Linked DNA regions of Homo sapiens: regions 1 and 2 are each linked to region 3. The links come from fine-mapping of genetic effects on gene expression. A gene starts in region 3. Each other region holds a variant in brackets. All regions are shown on one strand. Distances are from middle to middle. Region 1 overlaps GFPT1 (glutamine--fructose-6-phosphate transaminase 1). Region 2 holds the start of LOC124906020 (a long non-coding RNA gene). Region 3 holds the start of GFPT1 (glutamine--fructose-6-phosphate transaminase 1).

Region 1 (8,184 bases), 62 kb after region 3:
AAGTGCTGAGATTACAGGCATGAGCCACCATGCTTGGCCCTAACGTAGTTTTAAGAGATAGAGAATATATACTGTAAAACCAATGGGAATTTTATTTTCAGCTTTTTAAAATTAAAAGTTCTAAATTCTTCAGATGCAGCTGCAACTAATTGTCCTGCTTTTTTGTGATGTTTCAGGCTTATACCAGCCAGTTTGTATCCCTTGTGATGTTTGCCCTTATGATGTGTGATGATCGGATCTCCATGCAAGAAAGACGCAAAGAGATCATGCTTGGATTGAAACGGCTGCCTGGTACAAAGACACTCATATATTACACTTTTGTTGTCTAAGGGAGTGGGTAATAGGTAAAATTCTCTTATCCTTGAAGCTGTGGCTTGTAGCTATTTAGTCAATAAGATCTTTCTACGTTTGCTCCGATGTATTAAAAAAATACCCATACTGATTGATAGCACAGAGGAATAGAAACACTGGTCTTTTGTTATTTGCTGCCAATATATTGTTATTTTATTTGTTTGGTTTATTGTCCTTTTTTGCTAATATTACTTCTTAGATTTGATTAAGGAAGTACTGAGCATGGATGACGAAATTCAGAAACTAGCAACAGAACTTTATCATCAGAAGTCAGTTCTGATAATGGGACGAGGCTATCATTATGCTACTTGTCTTGAAGGGGCACTGGTAAGTTTTCTCAGTTCTAATTAGTATCAGTCCATTGACCTGCAGACCTGACACATAGTCATACTTTTACATTAAATGAATGAAATAGGTAGAACTTTTGAAAGTGCTTCTGTATTTATGCATTGTGGTTTGTTTACTTTGAGAAAGTGCAACAGAGAACTCTGTTCAGAAGTGAAAATCAAAAAGAGTACATTTTAACATGATAAACTTGGATTTAGCAAGTAACTTGGGTTAATTTGTTCAAATATGAATAAAGATTAAGTTCTCTAGATAAGAAATTTAATTGAGGTCAAGCTGGGCACAGTGGCTCACGTCTATAATCCCAGCACTTTGGGAGGACATGGCAGGTAGATCAAACTTGAAGTCAGAAGTTCGAGACCAGCCTGGCCAACGTGGTGAAACCCCATCTCTACTAATAATACAAAAACATTAGCTGGATGTGGTAATGCATGACTATAATCCCAGCTACTTGGGAGGCTAAGGCGGGAAGATCACTTGAACCTAGGAGGTGGAGGTGGCAGTGAGCCGAGATCACACCACTGTACTCCAGCCTGGGCGATCGAAGAAGACTCTGTCTTAAAAAAAAAAAAAAAAAGGGTTAACCAGAAATATGAATATGTTTGTGATAATCTAAAATCTTTAAAAAGTCCTTGTGGAGCTTTAAAACTTCCAATTACATGTTGATAATATAGAAATAGTGATCTATTAACTTGTTAGATATATTTATAGATCAGTGGTCCTTTAATACTTTTGGATAGATAGACAGTGGCTTGACATATCAGATGCTTTTTATAATATTTACTTAAACATGGATTTTTGAAAAGTGGATTGAAGACAAATCTGGTTCTTTCCTATTAGAAAATCAAAGAAATTACTTATATGCACTCTGAAGGCATCCTTGCTGGTGAATTGAAACATGGCCCTCTGGCTTTGGTGGATAAATTGATGCCTGTGATCATGATCATCATGAGAGATCACACTTATGCCAAGTGTCAGAATGCTCTTCAGCAAGTGGTTGCTCGGCAGGTAAGTCGGGGGACTGTGAGAACACCTTGGGGATCAAAGAGGGGAGTTACGCTAGCTTATTTGAATGACTTACAAAACATGTTTACACGTGTTAACTCATTTACTTTGGAATACAGCCTTTGAGGTTTACATGTGAGGAATCAGATACTTAAGAGTTTTTTTTTTTTTTTTTTTTTGAGATGGAGTCTCTGTCACCCACCCTGGAGTGCAGTGGCACAATCTTGGCTCACTGCAACCTCTGCCTCCTGGGTTCAGGCAATTTTCCTGCCTCAGCCTCCCAAGTAGCTGGGATTACAGGCACACTCCACCACGCCTGGCTAATTTTGTATTTTTGGTAGAGATGGGGTTTCATGTTGGCCAGGCTGGTGTCGAACTCCTGACCTGAAGTGATCCACCTGCCTCAACCCCCCAAAGTTCTGGGATTACAGGCATGAGCCACCCCGCCTGGCCCAGATACTTAGAGCTTTAAGAAGACCAAGGTCATAGATCTCATATTGGGCAGAACCAAGACCAGAACTGAGGTCTTGGTCTCCACATCCTGTCTTCTTTTAGTTAACATATGCTGTTCCTTTTTAATTTAATACTTCTAAAACATTTAAAAATGTATTTTAAAATATTTTTAAATATATATTTCAGCTGGTTGCAGTGGCACATGACTGTAGTCCCAGCTACTCTGGGGACTGAGGCAGGAGGATCACTTGAGTCCAGGAGTTTGAATACAGCCTGGGTAGCATAGTGAGACCCTGTCTCTAAAACAGTAAATAAAATAAATTAAAAAAAATTACACACACGCGATATATTTCAGGGGAAATCTAACATCTAGGTTTTATTTTAATATTATATAATTGAGTTTTCTTCAGATCAGTTGGCTTTATATATAAATTCCAAAAGATATTATTCCCTAAGCACAATGTGGTGGTAATGAACTTGAGCTTTGAAGTTAGGCAAACCTGCAGTCAAGTACTAAGCCTGGTATTTCTTAGTTGCATGAGTTTAAACAAATTACTGGATCCCATAACGCTTCTGTTTCCTCGACTATAAGTAATAACAATCAGATTTACTACACAGGAATTTAAAGAAGTCTGTCCGTGAGGCTTCATATGGATTATGCAGTGCAATTTTTGCACATTCGTAAGCTATAGCCCTGCCTTTGCCCACCAGTGATGTTGTGTATGTGTGTGATTTTCTTTCCTAGGGGCGGCCTGTGGTAATTTGTGATAAGGAGGATACTGAGACCATTAAGAACACAAAAAGAACGATCAAGGTGCCCCACTCAGTGGACTGCTTGCAGGGCATTCTCAGCGTGATCCCTTTACAGTTGCTGGCTTTCCACCTTGCTGTGCTGAGAGGCTATGATGTAAGTCATCTACCACTGCAGAAATCTTGGGATGGTTTTTTACCTGGATACATTCTGATTTTTTTCTCCTAAATTTTTAACAATAGTGTTTGAGAAATCTATCAAATATATATCTGTCACCTGTTATATTTTCATGGCCCAATTTGTAGGTTACATCACAACATCTTCTTACCCATAGAACTTGAAGGAACCTTGGGGTTCACCTCCAAGATTGTGACTCACCTTGGGTAGTCTCCACCTGTTTTCTTAATATAACCTCTATCTCTTAACAGGGCAGCTATTGGCATTTGGCAGGACAATTCTTTTTTGTTTGGAACTGTCCCACACATTGAAGACTTTGTAGCATTCCTGGTTTCTCAGCCATTGTGGCAACCAAAACATAGTGCTTTTGTTTTTAGTGTCCCCTATGAGGGCTACTACTTCTGTAGAGGACCACAGTAGCTCTTTCTGTGTGAACTGGCACCTTTAGAATGCTTTTTCCTAACCAATTTCAGTTTTTTTCAGGACACATTATGTGATTATATTTTCTAATCTAATTCTTTGTAGTCTGTAATAAAGATGGTTAATGAATGTATTGTTTTCTGTTTTTATAAACAAAAATAATTTGCTTATAGTAACCACCCCCTTCCCCAGTCTATATAATCTCTCAAATCTTGCTTTTTTTTTTTTTCTTTTTGCAGGTTGATTTCCCACGGAATCTTGCCAAATCTGTGACTGTAGAGTGAGGAATATCTATACAAAATGTACGAAACTGTATGATTAAGCAACACAAGACACCTTTTGTATTTAAAACCTTGATTTAAAATATCACCCCTTGAAGCCTTTTTTTAGTAAATCCTTATTTATATATCAGTTATAATTATTCCACTCAATATGTGATTTTTGTGAAGTTACCTCTTACATTTTCCCAGTAATTTGTGGAGGACTTTGAATAATGGAATCTATATTGGAATCTGTATCAGAAAGATTCTAGCTATTATTTTCTTTAAAGAATGCTGGGTGTTGCATTTCTGGACCCTCCACTTCAATCTGAGAAGACAATATGTTTCTAAAAATTGGTACTTGTTTCACCATACTTCATTCAGACCAGTGAAAGAGTAGTGCATTTAATTGGAGTATCTAAAGCCAGTGGCAGTGTATGCTCATACTTGGACAGTTAGGGAAGGGTTTGCCAAGTTTTAAGAGAAGATGTGATTTATTTTGAAATTTGTTTCTGTTTTGTTTTTAAATCAAACTGTAAAACTTAAAACTGAAAAATTTTATTGGTAGGATTTATATCTAAGTTTGGTTAGCCTTAGTTTCTCAGACTTGTTGTCTATTATCTGTAGGTGGAAGAAATTTAGGAAGCGAAATATTACAGTAGTGCATTGGTGGGTCTCAATCCTTAACATATTTGCACAATTTTATAGCACAAACTTTAAATTCAAGCTGCTTTGGACAACTGACAATATGATTTTAAATTTGAAGATGGGATGTGTACATGTTGGGTATCCTACTACTTTGTGTTTTCATCTCCTAAAAGTGGTTTTTATTTCCTTGTATCTGTAGTCTTTTATTTTTTAAATGACTGCTGAATGACATATTTTATCTTGTT[C/A]TTTAAAATCACAACACAGAGCTGCTATTAAATTAATATTGATATATTCAGTATTCTCTTCAACTTTGTCACGAGGAAGAATTTCCTGTAGTTAATTTTAACTTTCCTTCATTACATTGTTGCATAAAACTAGTCCCTTAGTGCCAGTTTGGAAGTTACTTGCAATTGTTTGGAAGATTTGCAGGTCGCTGACCTCATCATTTCACTCTAAGTATATGTGGTAGGCTAAGCTCAGAAAAAGGTATGTATGCTTTACACTGATAGGCACCAAATTTAGTATTGTATCCTAAGTATTTTTCCTCTTCTGTATTTTCTGTGCTCTACCCCTGAAATATATTTAGGAATAAAGAAGATATAAATAAAGTGATATTGGGGTATGTTCAGCTTGTAAGTGTCAGAAATGGAAGTTGACAATTTGGATTAAAATATTTAAAGTAGAATGTTATTATTTGATACCCCCAAAATTGTGAGTAATAATTTCTTAATGGAGCTTTTCTGGCCAGATCTTCAGGGCTATAGGAGAGTGTGTTTGTTTTTGGTGAAGTCCTTCTTTTTCAAAGGTTTTTACTTTTAAATTGTGAAGATAAGCTATTTAGCACAATTATTTAAGTAAGCTGTTTTTTCCTTTCTTTTCTTTCTTTTCTTGTTTTAACTTCTGGGTGAGGTTAAGATTTTCTAATAGTTATTGTTGTTGCCAGAGAAGCATAGAATTCTGCTTGTGTCTTAGGGTTAGAGAAAGATTTGTTATATTTTGAGGTAATTTGGAAGGACTTTCATACATGGTGACTAGAAACCTGATCTTTTTAAGAATAAAATAGGGTCACTATTTACATTATATATAATATATGGCTATTATAGCTATATTAATCTACTTTAATTGTTTCTAAGATTATTTTGTGTAAGTCAGCTAGCGTGTGTATAGTGTCATTTCTTATGTTTTGTATATTAACGTTTTACAAACACAATTTGTGTGGGTTTGTAGCATTTCTTATAGTTTAAAGTATGATTCAGCATTCTAAGTTAAAACTAATATGTGAAGTCAGTCATTAGTCTGCATAATCTCTGTCTCCCTCTGTGTGTGTCTTTCTATAAAGCACATGTGTACACACACACACACAAATATACTGAAAGCTAGGGTAAGTTCTAAACTGAATATCAAAAACCAAAATCAAGAACAAAGAAGTGATATTTTCCAAACAAACATGGATTCTCTGCCGGGTGCAGTGGCTCAGCCTGTAATACCAGCCTCCACTTTGGGAGTCTGAGGTGGGAGTATTGCTTGAGCTCAAGAGTTGGAGAACAGCCTGGGCAACATGGTGAGACCTGGTCTTTACAAAAATTTTTTTGGCCGGACGCAGTGGCTCACACCTGTAATCCCAGCACTTTGGGAGGCCGAGGCAGGTTGATCATGAGGTCAAGAGATCGAGACCATCCTGGCCAACATGGTGAAACCCCGTCTTTACTAAAAATACAAAAATTAGCTGGGAGTGGTGGCGTGCGCCTGTAGTCCCAACTACTTGGGAGGCTGAGGCAGGAGAATCGCTTGAACCCAGGAGGCGGAGGTTGCAGTGAGGCGAGATCACGCCACTACACTCCAGCCTGGCGACAGAGCAAGACTCTCTCAAAAAAAAAAAAAAAAAATTTTTTTTTTAAATGGGCTGGGCATGGTGGCTTGTGCCTGTAGTCTCAGCAACTTGGGAGGCTTAAGTAGTAGGATCGCTTGAGCCTGGGAGGTTGAGGCTGCAGTGAGCTGTGATTGTGCCACTGTGCTTCAGCTTGAGTGACAGAGTGAGACCCTCCTGACTCAAAACAAAAAACATGGTTTCTCCTCTCTCTCCTGTCTTCTTACTCTCTATCCCATTTGATGTAGTGATTTTTAAATGCTTTTGTAAGTTAATTCTTAACACAAAAGAGACATTGTAATGAGGCACACCACTAAAGTGAGCATGCCCAATTAAAACCAGTGTAATATAGGATAAGAAAATCTGATTTTTCAAAAAAGATACTCTACATAAAGAATCCTTCATATAAAAAGTTCTTTCTTGTAGTACATTTAAAGTTTTAATTCACTCATGTATAACTGAGAGTTCCTTTGAGCCCTTTTTAGGCAGGGAGGCATGTCTGTCATCTAGCGTGTGGCCCAGTAAGTGATTATTACATTGGAATCAGTTTTTCAGTCTTTTAAAATAAATTCTGTGCCATAAGAATAAAAGATAAAGAGAAAAATTAATGTTAACTATTTTTAGCTTATTATAACTATGTCAACAAGTGTTTATTAATACCTATTATGGGAAAGTCACTGTGGTTGGCATTGAAAATTACATCATCTTTAAAGCAGTATTTGTCCCCAGATGGACTCATCACTAGCAAAGACTAGGTTCATTGGAAGGCATAGGGTGAGAGAATGGGAAGATGAAGTGGAGGCGGGTTGTTAAAGTGCTGTCAGTGAGTGATTTTGTCTACTTGAATAATGGTCCATGTTTGGGGGCATATTGTGTTTCATAAGAAGTGAAAGGTATTTGCAAAGTAAGCTACAAATGACCCATAAATCTGTTAACAACAGTCCTTAATATGCAAAGATGAAAAACAAGCATTACTGCTACCCAAAGGGAACTGGTGCTTGGTGATGTGCAGATGGGGCTGTTGGTTAAGAGAGCTATTACAGGTTTTCTCTCTTAGGTTTCATAGGAGGTAGTTACTGAGATGAGATTGTTTTATCTTTTTGAATACAGATCTCTTGTCTTGAGTTAGTTCTGAGGATGGGAGTAATAAAGGAGTTTTTTGTTTTTTTGTTTGTTTGTTTGTTTTGGCTCCTTAGTAATACTCCTCTGACATTTATTTCTATTATTCTTCAAAGAAAGGAAACCAACTGAAATGTTTGCTTTAACAAACATTTTAATAAGTTCTCTGGGTTTTTTTTTCCCCTTTTAAAAAAATTAGCATATACCATAGCAATAAAAGAACTAATGTTAACTATTGTATGCTACAACTTAAGTGATTTTTCTAAAGAAGCACAATGTCATTGAAAGTATTATTGAAAAGGATCATAGTCACATTGAATTTGTGAAGGCCAAAGAAATTGAAGGGAGTGATATTTTCATTTTATGATATTCACATATTTAGTAAATTTTGTGTACAAGAATACCAGGCAGAGTGTTTTACCCATGGAAACAGGTTTCAGATTACTTTATTTTTACTGTTAGAGTCTCAAGTTTAGAAATGCTAACACTTAAATCAGTTTTTTTCTCACTATACTTGAAGATTGTTAATATTTTGATATCTTCCTAGCTTGATGAATTTAAACATATCTTCAGATCTGTGACAGTGACAGCCAATAGGACTGATAATATTAGCTTCAAACCAATAATATCCAGGGTTAAAATAAAAATCATAGTGAAAGTACGATTGTAAAATTATGCTATATTAACTTTTAAGTCTGTAATAACTTGACATCAAAATGTTATGTAATTACCATAAATAATGGCTAGCGAGAACATCTTTGGAAATTCTCAAATTACCTTTCTTACTA
Region 2 (8,184 bases), 62 kb before region 3:
CCCCAGAAGGCTGTTAATAGAACAATTTTAGACAAATTAAATTTAACAGAGCTTAATTGAGCAACGAATGATTCACAAATCAGGCAGCCCCCAGAACCAGAGTAGGTTCAGAGCGACTCCAGGACTGTCACATGGTTAGATACGATTTATGGACAGAAAAAGGAAAGTAATCTATAGAAAATAAAAGTGAGGTACAGAAACAGCTCAATTGGTGACAGCTGGGGATTTACCTTATTTGACCTGGTTTGAACATTTGACTGCCTGTGGTTGACTGAAGTTTGGCTCCTGTGACTGGCTGAGACTGCTTGTTAGAAGAGTCTGTTAAGAAATCAAGTTGGGTTACAGTTCACTGTGTCTAGAGAAACCTAACTTAAAATATGCAAGGGGGCAGCTTTAGGCCAAACATAACAATTTCCCCCTTTTGAACAACCTCTCAATCTGAGAGATTAACCAAAACTTTAGGCATTGATATCATTCTGTCACCATCATACATGGAGTTATTTGGTCTCAAATTTCACTGAGAAATAATAGAACAGTGGGTTTTGTTTTGTTTTTTTGAGATAGAGTCTCGCTCTGTCACCCAGGCTGGATGGAGTGCAGCGGCGAGATCTCGGCTCATTGCAAGCTCCGCCTCCCGGGTTCACGCCATTCTCCTGCCTCAGCCTCCTGAGTAGCTGGGACTACAGGCGCCCGCCACCACGCCCGGCTAATTTTTTGTATTTTTAGTAGAGACAGGGTTTCACCGTGTTAACCAGGATAGTCTTGATCTCCTGACCTAGTGATCCACCCACCTCAGCCTCCCAAAGTGTTGGGATTACAGGCGTGAGCCACTGTGCCTGGCAGAACAGTGGGTTTTGTAAGGTGGGAACAAAGAAACAGAACAATAGAAAGAAAGCTGATTGGGTAACATCAGGTTACTTTTTTGTAAGAGTTACAGCATAGGAGGACTTCCTTGTCATGCTGGAATCTCCTGTTTTCAGGAGAAAAAAAGAAACAGGTCTGTTTTGAGGTCTATCTGCCTCCTACAAGTTTCAGTTTGATTACATGGCATTTAGCGTGAGTGACTCCATTTTAGTTTGGTCTGGTCTGTTGGGGCCTAGTGCAGGAGCTCAGTCCAAAACAATGACCTCCCATAATTTTATTTAACAAGGCCAAGGCACCTATGGTGTAATGTCTTCCTACTTCGCCTGTCCAGATGCGGGCTGGTGCAACCTGCTTCAGACCCTGACATCCAATCAGTAGTTAACTGTGCTCCACAGGTTCCACTGGGGTACAGCATGCCCCTCTCCTTTCACTGGCTAGAAAGCAGCAGGACCCTGGGCTCAGGGCTCACACAGTCTTAGATGTTTTAATGAAACAACTTCCTTCTTTTCCTTTATTTCAAACACTCTCCCTGAGCCTGAGGCAGAGTTCATGGGGGCTGGTCCAGAAGACAGTCTGAGTATCTGGGCTGCTTGACCTTGGATCAAACATATGAATTGACTCTTTCCTCAAGACAGGAATTCTTCCCCAGGATGAATTCTTTCCCAGAAGCGTTCACCATACCTCAGGTAAATATTTCTTTGTTTCATCTGCCACATCAGTCCAGCAGAAATACTCAAATCCATCTCATTTCTAGGAATAACACAGATTAGTCGGCTGACCTCAGGTGTCACTCCTTGTAGAACATCAGGAACGGGTCTAAAAGTGTTATAGGAGAATAAAGCAACAGCATCGTTGTAACTACCTATGTGACAAGCTCAGTTCAAGGCACTTTGAATGCATTTTCTCTAATCACTCAACCATTTTCAGTAGGTATTGTTCCCTGCATTTTACAGATTAGGAAAGTTAGGCTCATCCATTCAACAAGTTTTTTTTGTTTGTTTTTGTGAGACGGAGTCTTGCTCTGTCGCTCAGGCTGGAGTGCAGTAACACGATCTCTGCTCACTGCAACCTCTGCCTCCCGGGTTCAAGCATTCTCCTGCTTCAGCCTCCTGAGTAGCTGGGACGACAGGTGTGTGCCACCACGCCTGGCTAATTTTTTGTATTTTTAGTAGAGACAGGGTTTCACCATGTTAGCCAGGATGGTCTCGATCTCCTGACCTCGTGATCCACCCTCCTCGGCCTCCCAAAGTGCTGGGATTACAGGTGTAAGCCACCACGCCGGGCCTCAAGAAGTATTTATGGAGCACTTACTGAATGACAGGTGCTGTTCTAGGCATATGAGATACATCAGTTATCAATATAAGCAAATATCTCTACCTTTGTGGGGCATACATTCTAGACAGGGGAAACTGATGGAAAAATAATTAGCATAATAATGAAATAAAATATATTTATTAGAAGATGATTAGTTCTACAGAACTTCAGAGAGGTTTCAATTTAGCAAGTATATCTTGAGTATGTCTTAAATGCCAGGCACTAGGAATAAAATCAAGAAGATAAAGGTGGCATGCCTATATGGTGCTTACAGTCAAGTGATGCCATAGAGTAAGGGGCAGAACTAGTAGTTAATGTCACTGCTGACATCCATGTTGGGAAAGATAACCAGAATGAGTGACTGAGGCAAGTATCTCAGTCAATTGAGGTTTATTAAGCCAGCTTCAGGGAGTGTCAGGGAAAAAAACGTGAGCCACAGATGTATCTGTGGCTGTTTTTCCAAAGAGGTTTTCAGGAGGTTTAGTATGTATACTTTTCCTTAAAGGGGAGGAAGGCACGTAGGAAGATGGGCAGGTAGGTGTAAAGGTGAATGGTTACATTCTTAGGAGACTTTAGTTAGTGCCCAGTAAATCTACATTTTTACATAAGATAAGATGAATGTCTGAAGAAAAAAGGGATTAAAGGAAGAATCAATTATGCAAACATCTTTGGGTAGCTGGAGGAATGACTGATCTCATTTGTCTTTGTTCTACACCTGGGAAGATAAGCTTGTAATCAACATTATCAGTGTGGAATGGAACAGACTTTAGTTTTAGGAGCGAGATACACTGGAAACCTAAAGTTACAACTGGCATGTCCTTGTTTATGGGAGGCTGGCAAAGAATTTACTTATGCATGATCTATGGGGAAGTTATTCGGAGATGCCTGAGGCCTTTTACCTTTCCATGCGGGTCTGGCTAACGCATAATGCTAGTGACAGCTATTCATTTGCAAGAGGGGGTTGCATAACTCAGCCTCTTTGGAATAAGGAGTGGAAGTCCTGAAATTTTTTAAATTTTCTGTCACATGTCCTCGTTCTTCAAAATCTTTCAGAGAAAAAACCCTGTAGAAGACACGAGTTTGTGGTTGTAAGTTTCATCTGATTCCAAGTCGCTAGGAAGCCTCATTCCTAGGGGGTCATGTCCTACGGAGATGGGGGAGAAACTAAAGAAGCAATGCCAAATAACAGCAACAAAGGGAAAGTAATCCTGGAACCTGATTCAGGCTACGTAATTGTCTCCTCAATTAAGGCAATTCTTTGGGCAATCATCTCCCTAACTCTTTTAGTTGTACATTGACACATTATAATGTCTGAAGCAGTCTATAGACTAGTTTTTCTAGAGTCTCTGAAGCATCTTCAGATTGCAGTGGCAATCTGACGGATTTTCCTGGATTGTGACTTGAATCAGGTGTTTAAGTGAACCCTTTGCATAGTTCATATTCAATAGGCACAAAGATTGTTTATATATAAATTGCTGTTATTTCTCCCAAAGTTTAAGTTCTCTGGCTTCTGCTTGTAGAGCTTTAAGAAAAGCATAGTTTTAATTTCTCATGATTCATCAGAGGCATGTGAACCAGAGCAACTCCATCGTGAGTAGGGGCTGGGTAAAATAAGGCTGAGACCTACTGGGCTGCATTCCCAGGCATTCTAAGTCACAGGATGAGATAGGATCTCAGCACAAGATACAGGTCATAAAGACCTTGCTGATAAAACAACTTGCAGTAAAGAAGCCGGCCAAAACCCACCAAAACCGAGATGGCGACAAGAGAGACCTCTGGTCATCCTCTCTGCTACACTTCCGCCAGCACCATGACAGTTTACAAATACCATGGCAATGTCAGGAAGTTACCCTATATAGTCTAAAAAGGAGAGGCATGAAGAATCCACCCCTTGTTTAGCATATCATCAATAAATAACTATAAAATTGACAACCAGCAGCCCTTGGGGCTGCTCTGTCTATGAAGTAGCCATTCTTTTATTCCTCTACTTCTTTTTTTTATTTTATTATATTATTATTATCATACTTTAAGTTTTAGGGTACATGTGCACAACGTGCAGGTTTGTTACATATGTATACATGTGCCATGTTGGTGTGCTGCACCCATTAACCCGTCATTTAGCATTAGGTATATTGCCTAATGCTATCCCTCCCCCCTTATTCCTCTACTTTCTTAATAAACTTGCTTCACTTTACGGACTCACCCTGGATTCTTTCGTACGCAAGATCCAAGAACTCTGTCTTAGGGTCTGGATCGGGACCCCTTTCCAGTAACAATTCCAAATCAAGAAAATGGAAGAAAAAGTTGAAAATGTTAGTTTGGAGACTTGCAGCCAGGAAATAAGTCTGAATCCAGTCCAAATTATAGGCAAATAATAAAAACTCAAAAACAATGAATAAGGCTAGAATCTAATAACAGGTGTCAGGCCTCGGAGCCCAAGCTAAGCCATCATATCCCCTATGACCTGCATGTATACATCCAGATGGCCTGAAGTAACTGAAGAATCACAAAAGAAGTGAAAATGGCCTGTTCCTGCCTTAACTGATGACATTACCTTGTGAAATTCCTTCTCCTGGCTCATCCTGGCTCAAAAGCTTTCCCACTGAGCACCTTGTGTCCCCCACCCCTGCCAGCCAGAGAACAACCCCCTTTGACTGTAATTTTCCTTTACCTTCCCAAATCCTATAAAATGGTCCCACCCCATCTCCCTTTGCTGACTCTCTTTTCAGACTCAGCCCGCCTGCACCCAGGTGAAATAAACAGCCTTGTTGCTCACACAAAACCCGTTTGGTGGTCTCTTCACACGGACGCGAATGAAATTTGGTGCTGTGACT[C/T]GGATCGGGGGATCTCCCTTGGGAGATAAATCCCATGTCCTCCTGCTCTTTGCTCTGTGAGAAGGATCCACTTATGACCTCAGGTCCTCAGACCAACCAGCCCACAGAACATCTCACCAATTTTAAATCGGGTAAGCGGCCTCTTTTTACTCTCTTCTCCAACCTCTCTCACTATCCCTCAACCTCTTTCTCCTTCAGTCTTTCCCTTCTCTTAATTTCAGTTCCTTCAATCACACTTTGGTCTCTCCCTTCTCTTAATTTCAGTTCCTCTCCTTTTCTGGTAGAGACAGGAGATGCGTTTTATCCGTGAACCCAAAACTCCGGCGCTGGTCACGGACTCGGGAAGACAGTCTTCCCTTGGTGTTTAATCATGTGGGGTTGCCTGCTTGATTATTCACCCACATTTCAGAGGTGTCTGACCACACAGGGATGCCTGCCTTGGTCCTTCAGCCTTAGCGGCAAGCACTGCTTTTCTGGGGGGCAAGCACCCCCCCACCCCTTCTCTCCATGTCTCTATCCCTTTTCCACTTTCCTGGAGGGCAAGCATCCCCCACCTCTTCTCTCCGTGTCTTTACCCCTTTTCCACTTTTCTGGGGGGCAAGCACCCCCCCACTCCTTCTCTCTCTGTCTCTACCCCTTTTCCACTTTCCTGGGGGGCAAGCACCTCCCACCCCTTTTCTGCTTTCCTAAGGGCAAGCGCCCCCCACCCCTTCTCTCCATGTCCCTATCCTCTCTTTTCTCTGGACTTGCCTCCTTCACTATAGGCAACCTTCCACACTCCATTCCTCCTTCTTCTCCCTTAGCCTGTGTTCTCAAGAACTTCAAACCTCTTCAACTCACACCTGACCTAAAACCTAAATGCCTTATTTTCTTCTGCAACACCGCTTGACCCCAATACAAACTTGACAGTGGTTCCAAATAACCAGAAAACAGCACTTTCGATTTTTCCATCCTACAAGATCTAAATAATTCTTGTCATAAAATGGGCAAACGGTCTGAGGTGCCTGATATCCAGGCATTCTTTTACACATCGGTCCCTCCCTAGTCTCTGTTTCTAATGCAACTCGTCCCAAATCTTGCTTCTTTCCCTCCCGCCTGTCCCCTCAGTCCTAACCCCAAGCGTCAATGAGTCTTTCCAATCTTCCTTTTCTACAGACCCATCTGACCTCTCCCCTCCTCCCCAGGCTGCTCCTCGCCAGGCTGAGCTAGGTCCCAATTCTTCCTCAGCCTCCACTCCCCCACCCTGTAATCCTTTTATCACCTCCTCTCCTCACACCCAGTCCAGCTTACAGTTTTGTTCTGCAACTAGCCCTCCCCAACCTGCCCAGAAATTTCCTCTTAGAAAGGTGGCTGGAGCTAAAGGCATAGTCAAGGTTAATGCTCCTTTCCTTTATCTGACCTTTCCCAAATCGGTTAGTGTTTAGGCTCTTTTTCATCAAATATAAAAACCCAGCCCAGTTCATGGCCTGTTTGGCAGCAACCCTTAGACTCTTTACAGCCCTAGACACTGAAGGGTCAGAAGGCTGTTTCATTCTAAATATGCATTTTATCACCCAGTCAGCTCCTGTCATTAGAAATAAAGCTCCAAGAATTAAATTCCGGCCCTCAAACCCCAAAACAGGACTTAATTAACCTCACCTTCAAGGTGTACAATAATAGAGTAGAGGCAGCCAAGTAGCAATGTATTTCTGAGTTGCAATTCCTTGCCTCCACTGTGAGGGAAACCCCAGCCACATCTCCAGCACACAAAAACTTCAAAACGCCTGAACCGCAGCAGCCACGTGTTCCTCCAGGACCTCCTCCCCCAGGAGCTTGCTACAAGTGCTGGAAATCTGGCCACTGGGCCAAGGAATGCCCACAGCCCGTTATTCCTCCTTAGCCATGTCCCATCTGTGTGGGACCCCACTGAAAATCGGACTCTTCAACTCACCTGGCAGCCACTCCCAGAGCCCCTGGAACTCTGGCCCAAGGCTCTCTGACTCCTTCCCGGATCTTCTTGGCTTAGCGGCTGAAGACTGATGCTGCCCAATCACCTTGGAAGCCCCCTAGACCATCATGGATGCCAAGCTTCGGGTAACTCTCACAGTGGAAGGTAAGCCCGTCCCCTTCTTAATCAACACGGAGGCTACCCACTCCACATTACCTTCTTTTCATGGGCCTATTTCCCTTGCCCCCATAACTGTTGTGGGTATTGATGGCCAGGCTTCTAAACCTCTTAAACTCCCCAACTCTGGTGCCAACTTGGACAACATTCTTTTATGCACTCTTTTTTAGTTATCCCCACCTGCCCAGTTCCCTTATTAGGCTGAGACATTTTAACTAAATTATCTGCTTCCCTGACTATTCCTAGGCTACAGCCACACCTCATTGCTGCCTTTTCCCCCAGTTCAAAGCCTCCTTCGTGTCTTCCTTTCGTATCTCCCCACCTTAACCCACAATTATAGGATACCTCTACTCCCTCCATGGCAACCGATCTCAAGCCCTTACCATCCCATTAAAACCTAATCACCCTTACCCCGCTCAACGCCAATATCCCATCCCATAGCACACTTTAAAAGGATTAAAGCCTGTTATCACTTGCCTGTTACAGCATGGCCTTTTAAAGCCTATAAACTCTCCTTACAATTCCCCCATTTTACCTGTCCAAAAACCGGACAAGCCTTACAGGTTAGTTCAGGATGCACACTTTATCAACCAAATTGTTTTGCCTATCCACCCTGTAGTGCCCAACCCTTACACTCTTTTGTCCTCAATACCTTCCTCCACAACTCTCTATTCTATTCTTGATCTTAAAGATGCTTTTTTCACTATTCCCCTGCACCCCTTGTCCCAGCCTCTCTTTGCTTTTACCTAGACTGATCCTGACACCTATCAGTCTCAGCAGCTTACCTGGGCTGTACTGCCACAAGGCTCCAGGGACAGCCCTCATTACTTCAGCCAAGCTCTTTCTCATGATTTACTTTCTTTCCATCCCTCCGCTGCTCACCTTATTCAATATATTGATGACCTTCTACTTTGTAGCCCCTCCTTTGAATCTTCTCAACAAGACATCCTCCTGCTCTTTCAACATTTATTCTCCAAAGGATATCGGGTATCCTTCTCCAAAGCTCAAATTTCTTCTCCATCCGTTACCTACCTTGGCATAATTCTTCATAAAAACACACATGCTCTC
Region 3 (8,184 bases):
ATTGAACATCCTTCATCCTCAAGCCTGAGGTTTTCACAAAGACTGTTCTAAGCACCTTATATTTATGAAGTCATTTAATCCTACGTGATAGTTAACTATTGTCCCTCCTCCGCCCCCCCCACCGCCCCTGCCTTTTTATTTTGAGACGAAGTCTTGCTCTGTCGTCCAGGCTGGAGTGCAGTGGCACCATCTCAGCTCACTGCAACCTCCTCCTCCCAAGTTCAAGCAATTCTTCTGGAATTACAGGCATGCGCCACCACACCTGACTATTTTTGTATTTTTGGTAGAGACAGGGTTTCACCATATTGGCCAGGCTGGTCCCTGACCTCAAGTGATCCACCCGCCTTGGCCTCCCAAAGTGCTGGGATTACAGGCTTGAGCCACTGTGCCCGGCCTATTGTCCCCATTTTTATAAACTGGAAGATGGAGGCACAAGGAAAAGTACATTGTCCATTGCCATGCAACTTGAGTGGAAAAGCTAGGAACATGAACTCTGGCATTCTGGCTGCAGGGCCTATGCACATTATAGCTATACTATTCTGCCTTAAGGAAGTTGGGCTCATACCCCTCTTGAGTATTCCTACTTGAGGGAGGAGAGAAGCTTTCCTTGCTTTCATAGCTACTTACGAGTGGGCAAGAGTCTAGAACCACAGTAGACAAAAGCAGTGGTATGTACATGTGTGTCCATTTTTTTATGCAGGAATATGAAACTAGTTGCTTTCCAGTCCAGAGGGAATCTACACCCCTCTTGGGAAATCCCAGCCATATACTCCATTTTGCCATATCAGTGTTATCTGTGATTATTCCCTAGGAGCTTACAAGATACACAGAAGCAACTTTTCAAGTATCCCTTGAAAGAAACCCTAGAAAAATAGTACTTTTTCTGTGTCCTTACGTTTCAAGTGATCTTTCAGTTCTAGGCAGCTCCCTGAATGGTCCACCCCTTATTGTGGCTCTGTTCACATCCAACAGGACAGAAATAGTAGGTTAAAGGTAGGACCAGTTTATCTCATGGTTTTCAATTTGTTGACTTTCTTGGCAGTAGAAAGAGTTTCTTTCTCGCAGAGCTAGAAAACTCTGCCCCAGCTTCTGCCTACTGGAAAAATTTGGAGCCACGTTGGAGAGGAGTATTGGGGAGGGCATAGCTTCTAGTTGGAGTTAGCATCCTTTGTCCTCAAGCCTCAGGTTTTCTGGGGGGCAATCAGGTCATATTTGCTTGATGCGGTGGACATATTTTTTTGTGTGCCTTCTTGGTGTTCTTCTTTTAGCAACACCTTCCCCTTTCCTTTGAAGAACTGCTTCCTCTTGCCGTATGTGGCTATATGACTCTATAGGGCTTTGGTGGAGCTGTCCTATCACAATGTCTTGCCTTCTTTGCCACAGGAGTGGGGCATGTGACTCACGCTGGACTGGCCAGAATCCTTGTCTAGAATATAAAAAGTAAGGATGGAGGAATAGCCTCTCTCATTTTGGGCTGCAAGCTATAAAGTTGTGATTACAGAGCTATTTGAGGATTATTTCCCTGTCCATGAGGTCAGAGAGGTAGTTCAAGAGTTCTGACAACATTCTGTCCCTGGGTATAAATGTGCTGAAAGCTGTTTGTATTCCTGTTCTTTCCAATTACGTGAGCTAGTAAATCCCCTTCTTTAGTTTGAGTGGTCTTCTATTTATTATTTGTCAGTGAAAGCTCTGCCCTCTAGGCACATCTTTCACCATGACTGTGAGAAATAAATTTGTGAGAGCTGCATCCTTGAAGAGCTCTGTGAAAGCTCTTTCTGTGGGAGTGCTGCCACTGAATTGGGAAATCTAGTACTCATCCTGTGGGTGAAGAGTAACCACGATATTGGAAGCAAGGAAAAACTGGATCACATTTGTATTTTTGACAGGTCCCTCTGGAGCCAAAGTGTGTGGGATGAACTGCGGGAGGCTAAAGGGGTTCACTCAAAGGGTCTTTCTGAGGCCTTGATTGGTGCCTTTTGTTCTTGTCCTCATTTCTTTTCACAGGCCTCAGGGGCTCAACCTATTTCTTTTTCCTTTGATACTTGCTACCATCTTCTCTGTCCACTGGGGTACATTTCTCCACAAAGCTCCCTAAAAAGTAGGACATATGTACCCCAGCTCCCCATATTCTTATGCAAAGGAATTTTTATTTTAATAATTTTATTGCTATTACTGGAATTCACATAAGGGTTAATAAAAATGACTACAGCTATTTCAATTAAGGTTCTTCGTTGCGTTAGTAATGGCAACTGGAAGCTCTGATGGCCTTCAGCCATCAGATCCAATGGGACTGAATCTACGAACAGGGAAATGGACTTACATAAAGAGATGGTGAATGACACCCCCTTGCCATCATTACTTTTTTTGTTGTCGTTCAGAATGTTTTGATCAGGAGAGAAAATCCATTCCCTCATTTGTTTGAATTAGACCCAGATGTCCCCTTCCCTTCATAGATCATTTATTTTCTTCTCCTTCAGGCCTTATTCCCAAAGGTCCAGTTAAGGCGGAGCTCTGTATAAAGGGAGGTCAGGCACCCAAAGTGTGTATCTTAACTGGCGCATGGTTACAAAGAGTTCTTTGTTGTGTTGGGTTAGTGAGGTTCTTCAAGGCTGATTTGGGAAAATACTGTCCTTCAAAGTTTCTTCTCTTTTTTGTCAAATTATTTTTTTATTTACTTTTTTTTTAACTTTTTTTTTTTTTTCTGAGTTGGGGACTTTCCAGTCTTTACTGAAAACTTTTAAAAATTTGTATTTAGACAAATTCTAAAAGACCTGTAACACTAGTTTCTTCTTCTCAACTGATTCATAAATATCTTCCAAAATAGTTTGTTGAGTGGAGATGGATAAGACAAATTGATAGTCATTGTGGTGGAGTAGCAGGCAGAAGAAGAAAGCAAAGGGTTAAATAGATTACTATAGTTGGAGCATGAGAACTCTGGTAGTACTGCTGACATTTTCTTTGTGGCATTGACAGGTTTGCTGCCAGTGCACAAAGATGTTGCTTAAGCATTGGAACCATACCTTGGCTTTTAGGTAATACAACGGAGTTCTAACCAGAGCCTTAGATGAGGGTTCTGAGGCTAGATGTATATCCACAGTCTTTTGTTTCTTGAATTAAGAAATGTATTATTACCAAAAAGCTCACTGTTTTTTTTTTTTTTAAACTTTGCTCTGGGTGATCCAGGGACCTGTTTAAGGGATTGAAATATCAAAAGGGCTTTTAGGTGAGAAATACTCTGCTTAGTTAAATGTGACATTTTTCAGCTTCTCTGAGGCAAGTGAAAAAAGGCACTTTTCCCCGTAAGAAGAACTGAAAGCCTTATGCTCACTTAATCATATAACCAGCCATAGAAGGTTAATTCCGCTAAGAAAATAGGACTTTTTTTCACTCATTCCAAAATAAATTTGATCTTTTACTTTGTGCTGTGGTCTAAAAGTGTTGGGTATGTAAAATCTAGTTCTAGCTTCAAGAAACTTACAGCCCAGTGGGAAAATACAGAAAATCATAAAATATCAAAGAATATTTCTTTACAGTGAGTAGCTCAAAGAGTAAGAGGTTAATGCATGTCTCCAAGTCTGTCTAGGGGGGATAAAAAAGGCTTTCCTGAAGAGGTAGCATCTAAACAGAGACGTGGTGGGGATTCTATGCAGAGTAACCAAAGTGTGCAAAAGATTTGAGAATCTTGGCCCAGTTGAGGAACTACCTGTTGAGCCTGTTGGGAGTGTATAGGGCTGGAAGGACGGCTAAGACCAGACACATGAACAGCAGTCAGCAGGCTAAGACCAGACACATGAACAGCAGTCAGCACTCCAGGAATTCTGTGTGCCATGTACGTTTTTGATACTACTCTACTCTAGAGCCATTATAGAGTTCTGATTACTCCACATTTGACTAAAGATACCATTTAAGGCTGTTTAAAGCAAATGCCCAGGTAATAAATTCTCAGAAACATCATCCCTCTCTAATCAAGTCTCTCTTGTCAGACATGGCGCATTAATTCATAGAATGAATCGTTCGTAAGTCAAACGCGCGGCTGTTAAAGCTAGGGAATTCCTAGCCGTCTCAGGTGGGTCATGGGAGGAGGTGGGCCAGCAGTTTCTTACGTCCAGGCTCATAGTCGGATAGTTGAGCCTTACATTCCTCCTCTACCCCTCCACAATAAACTGAGGGTTATGGAGGCAACGGATGCGGAGGGCTTTTAGGGGCCAAGCATATTACACAAGGAATTGAATTGCTTATTACCAGAGAGGCTGACCTTTGGGGCTTTACAGTCAAGAATTTTGTTATCTCTCTCCTCCCACCTCAACCTAATTCTTTGCAATTTTTTTCAGCCTTATGTTCCCCAGGATTCCCTTTTCATACTTCCTGCTTTTTTCCTCCTCTTTCCTCGCTTCGTGCAGTGCTGGCGCCTGGGGCCTGGGGCTGCACGGGGCACGCACCCGGGCTATTGCTTTGCTAACAATTCCATCCTTCTCTTTCCGTCATTCCCTGCCAGGTGCTGAGTTTCTCCCTCCCTCTCGGCTCGGTCCCTCCCGCGGCTCGCCCCGGGGCGGGCGTCTCCAGGAACTCCAGGCGGACGCGGCCACGAGCCACTGCCACGTCGCCGCCGCCAGCAGTCCAGCGCCTGCGTGGGCTCGGGGGGCGGGGCAGCGCTGGGAGGCGGGACTTGCGCGTGAGCGGCGCGTGAGCGGTTCAATGGAGCCTACGGGCGGCGGCGCGCTGCGCGCCGAGGGGCGGGGCCCGGCGGCGGTTGCTGGCGGAGCCCGGGAGGCGGAGAAGGCTGTCGTTGCCTTGGCCGTCGCATCCCCGAGGGAGTCGTGTCGGCGCCACCCCGGCCCCCGAGCCCGCAGATTGCCCACCGAAGCTCGTGTGTGCACCCCCGATCCCGCCAGCCACTCGCCCCTGGCCTCGCGGGCCGTGTCTCCGGCATCATGTGTGGTAAGGGGGCCGGGAGCGGGGGGCGTGTTGCCGGGTGGCGCTGGGGTGCGGTGCGGGTGCCGCTAAGGCCCAAGGCGACGGGCGGAAGCGGGAGTGTGGAGGGTGCGAAGTCTGGGTGATGGGCAAGGGGCGCCCAGTGGTGGCTGCGGGGGCGGGGGCCGGCATCCACGGGCGGGAGAGGGGGTGGCGGCCGGGAGAAAGGCACCTGAGAGGAAGGCGGGCCCCCTTTGCCGGGGGCTAGCGGGCGCCTTGGCGCGGAGAAGGAACCGAAAGGGGAGAGAAACGCCTTTATTGAAAAAGGAGGAGAGAGCTGAGGGAATTGAGGTGTGGAGGGGGTTGCCTTCAAAAGGGCCCACCAGGTGAGTGAGGAAACCTGTGGAACCTCGGGCGAGGTCTCTTGAACTTACCTTGCATTTTTCTAAAAATCTTTAAAAAAATATTTTACTTGTTTCTGGGGAGGCCCAATAGAAAACAGACCCTAGCTAGAGCCACGGTAGTGCCATTAAACGTGATACTTCCTGCCATCCCTTGTCTCAACAGAAACCATTGCTAATCAATAACTTGGTTCATGGGCTTAGACCTGATCCTCTGGTGGAAGAGGCCTTCAAATGTCTGTGGCGATAGGTTATACATAATTTATCATTTGCGTGTGCACCCATTAAAAATGCCAGCTCTGAAAAATATCAGTTATACCTTGGATGTATACCCCTTTAGAATACCAACTATGAAAAATATCATTTATCCCTTGCATGTGCATCCATTAAAAATACTAGCTATGGAAAGTTGAGCAAATATCTTTCCTAGAGCCTTAAAAAATTAAGGTTAGGCCCTTTTATTCCATGTTTTGAGAGTCGTTTATTATGACCTAAGTGTTAGTGAAAGAGACTTTGAGAATCGTGTCTGACATGACTGATATCTTCTAAAATTGGTGTTAATTTGGCTATTGCCAGTAAAAATAATTGTATTCTTACCTTTCTTATTGAAATTTACAACCGACTTTATCCCTGGAAGAAAGTACACTTTTTTTTTTTTTTTTTAAAGGGAAGTACCATTGTAAGAGAATTGAAAACTCTCTGGGAGACTTCTTATTTGCAGCCTTTTACACGAAGGAACTGAACAGGAGGTGGATTGTACTCGTTAGTGTATATATTTCCTGTATTTAACTTTATGCTCATTTCAGCTTCTGAAAATGAGGAGCAGGTTTAAATTTAGAGTAGATTAAAAAAAAACCCACATAAAAACAGAAACACCTATAAATAGCTTACTGAAATTATTAGAGTAGAGCTGACTTCAGAATCAGACTTTTGCAGTGTCTACTTAGTAGAATGGTTTTGCATTTAGTTTGGAGCTGTGAAGTAGTGAATTTGCAAACTGGTCAATCTCCAGTGTGCTTCATTTGGTAGTTAACTGTTCCTGAATGATGAGGGGTGTGCCTCATCAAGTACTCAACATTCTGGTTGCAGGTCATTTCATCATGTTCCAAGAAAAAAACGTAGTCAAAGTACTTACTGAAAAAAAAATAAATAAATAAATAAATCAGCGCTGGGCGTGGTGGCTCCCGCCTATAATCTCAGCACTTTGGGAGGCCGAGGCAGGTGGATCACCTGAGCTCAGGAGTTCAAGACTAGCCTGGCCAACGTGGTGAAACTCCATGTCTACTAAAAATACAAAATTAGCTGGGCGTGGTGGTACGCGCCTGTAATCCCAGCTACTCGGGAGGCTGAGGCAGGAGAATTGCTTGAACCCAGGAGGTGGAGGTTGCAGTGAGCCGGGATCGCGCCATTGTAATCCAGCCTGGGTAAAAAAGAGCAAAACTCCATCTCAAAAATGATAAATAAATATAAATAAATAAATCAGATATGGAAATCAGGTTCAGATAAGGGAGATACCTTTAGGGTGGAGACTAAATGTTGGGAGTTTTCACATAGTTTGTGTCTCCATTCCATAGAGTTTTACGGCTGAGGAAACAGGTATTGAAGAAATAAAAAGTGAATATTTGAGGCATTTCTGAGGTCCTGCTTTTAAGTCATACCACGGTTTTGCCTGATTCTAGGGATAGGGTTCAGAATTTATTTTCTCTCTAATGTAAATTCTGAAAGATAAGAAGATGAGTGTCATTATTTTCCTCCCACATCTTAGTCATTGAACTAAAATTCCTGAGCAGAGAAATGGAGTGAAAATTAGACTAGATGGGAAAATCTGGAAGCTTACTTTCTGATTACTTGCTATCTAGTTAAGTTTTTCTCTTTCTTTCCTTCTTTCTTTTCTTTTCTTTCTTTCTTTCTTTTTCTTTCTTTCTTCTTTCTCTCTCTTTCTTTCTTTCTCTTCTTTCTTTTCTTTCTTTCTTTTTTCTTTTTTTTTTTTTTTTTTTGTGACGGGGCCTCTCTCTGTCGCCCAGGCTGGAGTGCAGCGGCATGATCTTGGCTCACTGCAGCCTCTGTCTCCGGGGTTCAACCTCCCGAGTAGCTGGGATTACAGGGGTGTACCACCACACCTGGCTAATTTTTGCATTTTTGGTAGAGGTGGGGTTTCACCATGTTGACCAGACTGGTCTGCTGACCTCAGGTAATCCACCTACCACAGCCTCCCAAAGTGCTGGGATTACAGGAGTGAGCCACCTTACCCGGCCCTAGTTAAATTTGCCTAAAAGATTATTTTATTTCAACGTTGTGCATTGTTGAAGCAGAAGAATGAGGATTGAAGATTCTGATGTGCTTTTTTTCAATCAGATATACTGATAAAATTGATATGTTTACCAGCTTGTATTGGGATGTTAATAAGTGTTAGGAAAAAAGATCCTCTGGTCCAGTAAATTTGGGAAGCAACATATTAAATCGCGTGGTAATGTTTTGTTTTGTTTTTTGATTGGAGGATTTCTTGGAATCTTTAATGTATTAATAATAAGCATTGAGAATCTCCCAGAGAAGAATAGTGTGTCTATTTTCCAAATTTATTTTATCTTCCTTTTTCTTGGTAGTTTGGAATATACTTTGTCCTTTTTATTTGCATTATTTTTGGTTTTGCTGAGTGTCAAGTCACTTAAGCTATCCCTAGCTTTTAACAGATTTTGCTATTGTTTTTATAAATGTGAAGTTATACCCTTCTGATTCGACGGTGTATATAAAATGGAATTTTGGGGATGGGCGCGGTGGCTCACGCCTGCAATCCCAGCACTTTGGGAGGCTGAGGTGGGTGGATCACCTGAGGTCAGGAGTTTGAGACCAGCCTGACCAACATGGTGAAACC

What was found. PIP is the estimated chance that this variant, and not a neighbour inherited with it, causes the effect.
Region 1: its variant is fine-mapped to the expression of GFPT1 in whole blood (TOPMed, PIP above 0.99). The same link has a PIP of 0.9 or more in blood mononuclear cells, fibroblasts, lung, nasal epithelium, sun-exposed skin and thyroid.
Region 2: its variant is fine-mapped to the expression of GFPT1 in monocytes after interferon gamma (Fairfax 2014, PIP 0.95).

Annotation. Positions count from the first base shown.
Region 1 is chr2:69,321,791-69,329,974 of GRCh38, reverse strand. GFPT1 (glutamine--fructose-6-phosphate transaminase 1) reads left to right here. Exons shown (of 20, transcript NM_001244710.2): 16 at 177-291; 17 at 551-678; 18 at 1,537-1,704; 19 at 2,900-3,061; 20 at 3,742-8,184. The coding sequence ends at 3,786. Among named protein-coding and RNA genes, the nearest start is that of GFPT1, 61 kb to the left of the region's middle. The variant C/A (reference allele first, on the strand shown) is at 4,656.
Region 2 is chr2:69,445,755-69,453,938 of GRCh38, reverse strand. LOC124906020 (a long non-coding RNA gene) reads right to left here and starts at 4,440. Exons shown (of 3, transcript XR_007086829.1): 1 at 4,382-4,440; 2 at 231-318. The variant C/T (reference allele first, on the strand shown) is at 5,013.
Region 3 is chr2:69,383,819-69,392,002 of GRCh38, reverse strand. It overlaps GFPT1 (glutamine--fructose-6-phosphate transaminase 1), which reads left to right and starts at 4,776. Exons shown (of 20, transcript NM_001244710.2): 1 at 4,776-4,938. The coding sequence starts at 4,932. RefSeq lists enhancers at 1-177, 4,425-4,984 and silencers at 4,357-4,466, 4,527-5,196.